Regions from separate parts of the Homo sapiens genome. Here region 1 is linked to region 2. Evidence: fine-mapped expression QTL. A gene starts in region 2. The other region holds a variant in brackets. All regions are shown on one strand. Distances are between the middles of the regions. Region 1 overlaps SPINDOC (spindlin interactor and repressor of chromatin binding). Region 2 holds the start of RTN3 (reticulon 3).

Evidence for each region. PIP is the estimated chance that this variant, and not a neighbour inherited with it, causes the effect.
Region 1: its variant is fine-mapped to the expression of RTN3 in monocytes (BLUEPRINT, PIP 0.93).

The regions. Positions count from the first base shown.
Region 1 is chr11:63,813,605-63,816,405 of GRCh38, forward strand. SPINDOC (spindlin interactor and repressor of chromatin binding) reads left to right here. Exons shown (of 6, transcript NM_138471.3): 1 at 1-209. The coding sequence starts at 83. Among named protein-coding and RNA genes, the nearest start is that of SPINDOC, 1.5 kb to the left of the region's middle. The variant T/TAGC (reference allele first, on the strand shown) is at 1,402.
Region 2 is chr11:63,680,175-63,682,975 of GRCh38, forward strand. RTN3 (reticulon 3) reads left to right here and starts at 1,326. Exons shown (of 9, transcript NM_001265589.2): 1 at 1,326-1,604. The coding sequence starts at 1,463. RefSeq lists a silencer at 1,499-1,618.

The DNA.
Region 1 (2,801 bases), 130 kb after region 2:
AGGAGGCGGGAGGCGGTTGCCGGCTGCGCGCCGAAGCCTGCGCGCCAGTCCTCCGGCCACTGCTATCGCCCACGGCCGCACCATGGCCCTAAAGGCCGAGGGCGCCGCACTCGACTGCTTCGAGGTGACGCTGAAATGCGAGGAAGGGGAGGACGAGGAGGAGGCCATGGTGGTGGCCGTAATTCCGCGGCCCGAGCCGATGCTCAGAGGTGAGGATGGAGGGGATTCCACTTCCGCGTCACGGTGCGGGGCCGGGGCTGGGGCCGTCCCTCCCCAGTCGGGGTCCGGGACCCGGGCACCTTCTCACCCCCTTCAGCCTTGGGGCCCAGGTTTCCCTCTCGGATCTGGGTCCAGGGCGCGCTCTTGCACCTCCCCCACCATGGTTTAGAAGCTCAGGCCTCCTCGATTTCCCCCTCCCTTCCCCTTTCCCCCGCCCAGGGTCTGGAGACTTCGATCCACGCCCCGCACGCTCCGGATCTTCCGGTGCCCAAGCGCCCCCTCTCCCGGGCCCAGCACCAGAGGCCGGATCCCCAGAGGCGCTGGGTGGTTGCGGCCGCCGTCTCACAGCCTGGGAAGGGGAGGCAAGCACAACGGCCGGGCTGTGTTCTAGTCCGAGGGGCGGCGAAGCCTCTAGGCCGGAGGCTACAGGCGGGCGCCGCTGCCGACCTCCAGGAGAATTTTAAGGGCTCTCCGAGCATAACGCTTCCCTGCCCACCACCCCGCTTCATTCCCATTCCCGGGCCTTCCACTTGCAGGAGCCACAGGTGTCAAGTTCTGGAGAGAAGGGATGAATGGGACTGCATACAACAGCTAGTTTGGAAAAGCAGTGCAGTGCTAGAACGAGATTAGCTTTGGGAGGGGATGGGAGGAACAATCTCAGAACACTCGCTCTCCCCTCCCCCTTCACCGATTTCTAGTCCTCAGGAGCTTGCAAACCGTAAGAAAACAAAGAGCCATCTTTGTGGGAGACTTAATATGCATGAAAATGCAAATATATTTCCATTCTCCCACCCCGCTTTTCTTAGGCGGGATAGTACCCAAAAGAGGTTGAGAGCAGCAATGCCATTCATTGAACTTCAGCCGAACAGAATGATGTCTGCCTGCACTGCCTGTCATCCTTTTTGGAACTGGAAGGGTTATAAAATTCATGAGGGAAATAAAGGTCACCTCCCTTCTCGGAGCATTTAGTCCAAAAGATAGGTTGTTTTCCTACTTCTGCTAATATTTGTTGAGTGTTCATTGGGCATTGTCAGAGGCTGTCTCAGTTAATCCTCTCAACCCTGCAAGGGTGGCCTTATCCCCACTGTTAGGGCAGGAATAGACAGGTGAATTCATTCAACCAATATTCACTGGACGTCTACTTTAGGCTGTTTAGGCTAGTGTTTTTAGGCTGGGAAGTAG[T/TAGC]AGTAAACAGAGCAACCGAAACCCTGCTCTTGAAGAACATATATATACCAATGGCTAAAGACAGAGAAATAGGTTCATGTATAGTATGTTGGGTGGCAATAAATGGTTCAGAGATCACTAAAGCAGGAAAAGGAGAAAGAGGAGGAATGGGTATTTAATTGAATATATCGAGTGGTTCAGAAAGGGTTTTCTAATAAGGTGAATTTTGAGCACAGACCCGAAGGAAGTGAGGATGCCAACCTTGCAGATATCTGCAGGAAGAGCATTTCAGGCCGAATAGCAAGTGCAAAGGTCCGGCAGCACAAGCTTCTGGAAAGATTTCGGTGGAGAGAGGAAGAAAGATTGAATTCAAGGTTTTTGGCCTGAGCAACTGGAGGAAGAGCCTTCCCATTTTCCGAGATGGGGAAGGCTGCGGTGCTCTTGGGAGACTGGGAGTGAAAGTTTGAATATGATTACGTTTGAGATGCCTATTTATGACATATTCAGGTGGAGAGGTCAACTAAGCAGTCAGATACATGGGCCTAGATTTCCTGGAAGTATCTAGCTAGTGGCGTAAACAGAAATTGCCAGCAGGCAGACAGTGGGAAGAGAAGGAAGTAGAGAAGTGTCTAAGGACTGAGTCCTGGGAAACTCCAGTGATGGCAGGTTGGAGACCGAGTCAGTCCCTCATCACACATTACTAAATGCCACTGCATGCGAGGAGATACAGATACAGATGCTGGAGATACAGATGCAAAACATCAGAAATCTGTATGGTCATGGATTTTTTTTTTTTTTTTGAGACGGAGTTTTGCTCTTTTTGCCCAAGCTGTAGTGCAATGGCACAATCTCGGCTCACTGCAACCTTCGCCTCCCGGGTTCAAGTGATTCTTCTGCCTCAACCTCCCGAGTAACTGGGATTATAGGCATGTGCCACCACGCCCAGCTAATTTTGTATTTTTAATAGAGATAGGGTTTCCCCATGTTGGTGGGGTTGGTCTTGAACTCTCAACCTCAGGTGATCCGCCCACCTCGGCCTCCCAAAGTGCTAGGATTCAGGCGTGAGCCACCGCACCTGGCCGTGGTCATGGATGCTATGGTGTGGTAAGGAGACAGGCAGTGAACATCCCAAAAACAAGTGCCAGGTGGTGATGTGTGCTGTGTTGGAGGTGATGCATAAGGGGAATGGGGTGCTCTAGTGAGGGGAGATGGTCTTCAGCAACAAGCCAGAGGAAGGGAGGGAATATTGAGAAGAGATGAGGAAGAACTAGCACACATAACTGAGAAAGAGGGCCAGGGAAGCAAAAGAAGAACCAACAGAAGGTCATGCCCTAGACGCAAGTGATGAAAATCAAGATGGAAGAGGTGATCGGCAGAGGATGAAGTTGAGAAACTGACCGCAGAGTTTAGCACTGCTGACT
Region 2 (2,801 bases):
TAATTTTTGTATTTTTAGTAGAGACAGGGTTTCACCACATTGGCCAGGCTGTTCTTGAACTCCTGACATCAGATGATCCACCTGCCTCGGCCTCCCAAAGTGCTGGGATTACAGGTGTGAGCCACCGCGCCCAGCCAACAGTCCTCCTTTAACAAAGACTATGCACCTTTCCAATATTTTGACCAGATGTAGGGAGAAGGCTTCGAATTTGGCAATCCAGCCCAGGAAAAGCAAAAAATGAACAAAATCCAATATAGGCTAGAAATCTGGTTTTAAATACATGTTCTGCTAAGGACCTCTTTTAGTCTATGAATAAAATTCAATTATGTGTATTTTGTGCCTTATTCTGATTTTTTTTACTTTTTTTTTTTTTTTTAAGGCAGGAAGGTTCTCGCTGTGTGGCCCAGGCTGGACTCCAACTCCTGGGCTCAAGTGATCCTCCCTTCTCTGCCGTAGCAGAGACTACGGGCCTCTGCCACTGACTGCGGCCTTATTCTGAATTTTTAATATCTAATTTTATCATCCCCCATAATCACAGCCAACATTTTCTTATCTCCTGGCTCTTCTTCATCAGCTCAGCATTTTTTTTCCCTCTCTAAAATATGTCGTCTCTATCTGACAGTCTATTCGGAGGAAAAGAGAACCTTAAGACCCAAGGTGGACCCTTCTCTGGCAACAGTAACGAGATAAGAATACGAAGCAGGTTCTGCGACTGCATTGCAATGTGATTGGAATGAGTAATCGTTTTTCATTCTGTATAGCATCTTTCTCCACCTACCAAATGGGGGGCCGTGCCATCTCTGCCTCTCGGTGAGGAGATATTACGACACAGCCAGTGAGATTCACAAAGCACCTTGCAGAGTGGGCCTACTCTACACTCTGGTTTTCAGTTTTTATTGGAGTCACAGGTGGGAATGCATCAAACAAAAGATATAGGCTCTGGAATGTACGGGAAAGAGAGTTTCCATAATGGAAGCCCAAAGACATTTCTACCGTTAAAATACATAATCTGCCGACCCTAAAACATTCACATAAAGAGGCAGGAGGGAATACTATCCCGCAGCTCCACGATTAGCCGCAGTCGTGGGCGGGGATTGGGGCTTGGATACGCCTTTTGCGTCTGGTCCCCAAGGGACGCTCCCCAACCCTCGGCGCGCGAGGCGCCGCGTGAGGCCGGCTTTGCCCCTCCTTCCCTGCAAGAGCGCAGAGGAGCGGTTCTTGCGCCTGCGCCCTGCGCCGCTGCGCGCTTTGGCACCCGCTTGGGGCCCTTTGTGCGCATGCGCGCTCGCGCTCCCGCCCTCTAGCTGCGCTCGGCTGAGTCAGTCAGTCTGTCGGAGTCTGTCCTCGGAGCAGGCGGAGTAAAGGGACTTGAGCGAGCCAGTTGCCGGATTATTCTATTTCCCCTCCCTCTCTCCCGCCCCGTATCTCTTTTCACCCTTCTCCCACCCTCGCTCGCGTAGCCATGGCGGAGCCGTCGGCGGCCACTCAGTCCCATTCCATCTCCTCGTCGTCCTTCGGAGCCGAGCCGTCCGCGCCCGGCGGCGGCGGGAGCCCAGGAGCCTGCCCCGCCCTGGGGACGAAGAGCTGCAGCTCCTCCTGTGCGGGTAAGGCGCGCGGGGAGCCCCCGCCCTGGGAAAGAGGGCGAGCGGGAGCCTGGGGGCTGGGGGGATTAGGAGGCGAGGCGGGAGGAGGACGAATTACCCTCGACTACTGACGGCTTCAGCCCCCCGGGGACGAGCGTTTGGAAAATGGGCAAAGGGGAAGGGGAACGTAAGGTTGTGCAGGCGGTGAGGAAATAGCGGGGTGTGAGGAAAACAGGTTGGGGGCGGGGAGATAGTCCAGTGGGCGTTAACGCCAAGACTGGGCAGGTGGGGAAAAATACCAGCTCGTGGGATAAAATGGAGAGTTGCTCGATGCATATGGTGAACCTGGGTGATTTAGTGAGGATTAGAGAGATTGAAAGGATACGGGCAGGTGGGTGGTGGGAGAAACAATTTGTTACTATTTTTGAGGGGATGGTGGTGAAAGGGTTGCATTGCAGGTTTGCAGACAGGTGTTGACATAATCAAGCATTCATGATAGTCCTCCAAAATATTTTTGGCTGCCCATGGGAAGGATGAGGAAGTTTAATGGAAGCATTGTAGCCTGTTTTTTTTGTTTGTTTGTTTTGTTTTTACTGTTTTCGGCTAGACTCCATGAATGCCGGATTTTTCTGAGGCTCCGAGGTAGAAGGAGGCGTGATGAGAATAGCTCAGGGAAGATTTGGGAGGGAGCTGCTAATGGTCCAAGATGGATCCGTGGCTGCATCTGCAACAGCCTGCTCTTCCCTGGCGCTGCGTGGGGGTGGGGACACGCAATCAGTCGCTTATATTCTAGAAAATAGAGTCATGCTAAGCTATCAACATGTTTTGATTTCATGTTTTCTGTGGGCTACTATTGATCGAAGTATAACAAAGGGGGGTGTTTATTGCAGAAAGGGGGAGGGGGAGAACATTCAGACAAAGCAAGGGCTGGTTGAGTCCCCTTCTCCCATCTCTGTGAAAGACTAAGAACGAAGCTGCAGACCTCCTTTAGTTTGCATTGTATACGCGTCTGCCTGCTGGTAAGAGCTGCCTGGCAAGCTCCCCTTATGCAGAAATCTGCAGTGCAGATGCCTTCTTAAGGGGGGAAAAAAAAACCACCATGGGCAGGTGGTAGTTCTCAAAGGAACGGAGTCTTTGAAGGGAAAAAAAATGCCTTTTGTCAAAGGCAGGGCCGTAAATTCGGGAGAGTAGAGATAATTTTGCTCTCTATTTAGTTAT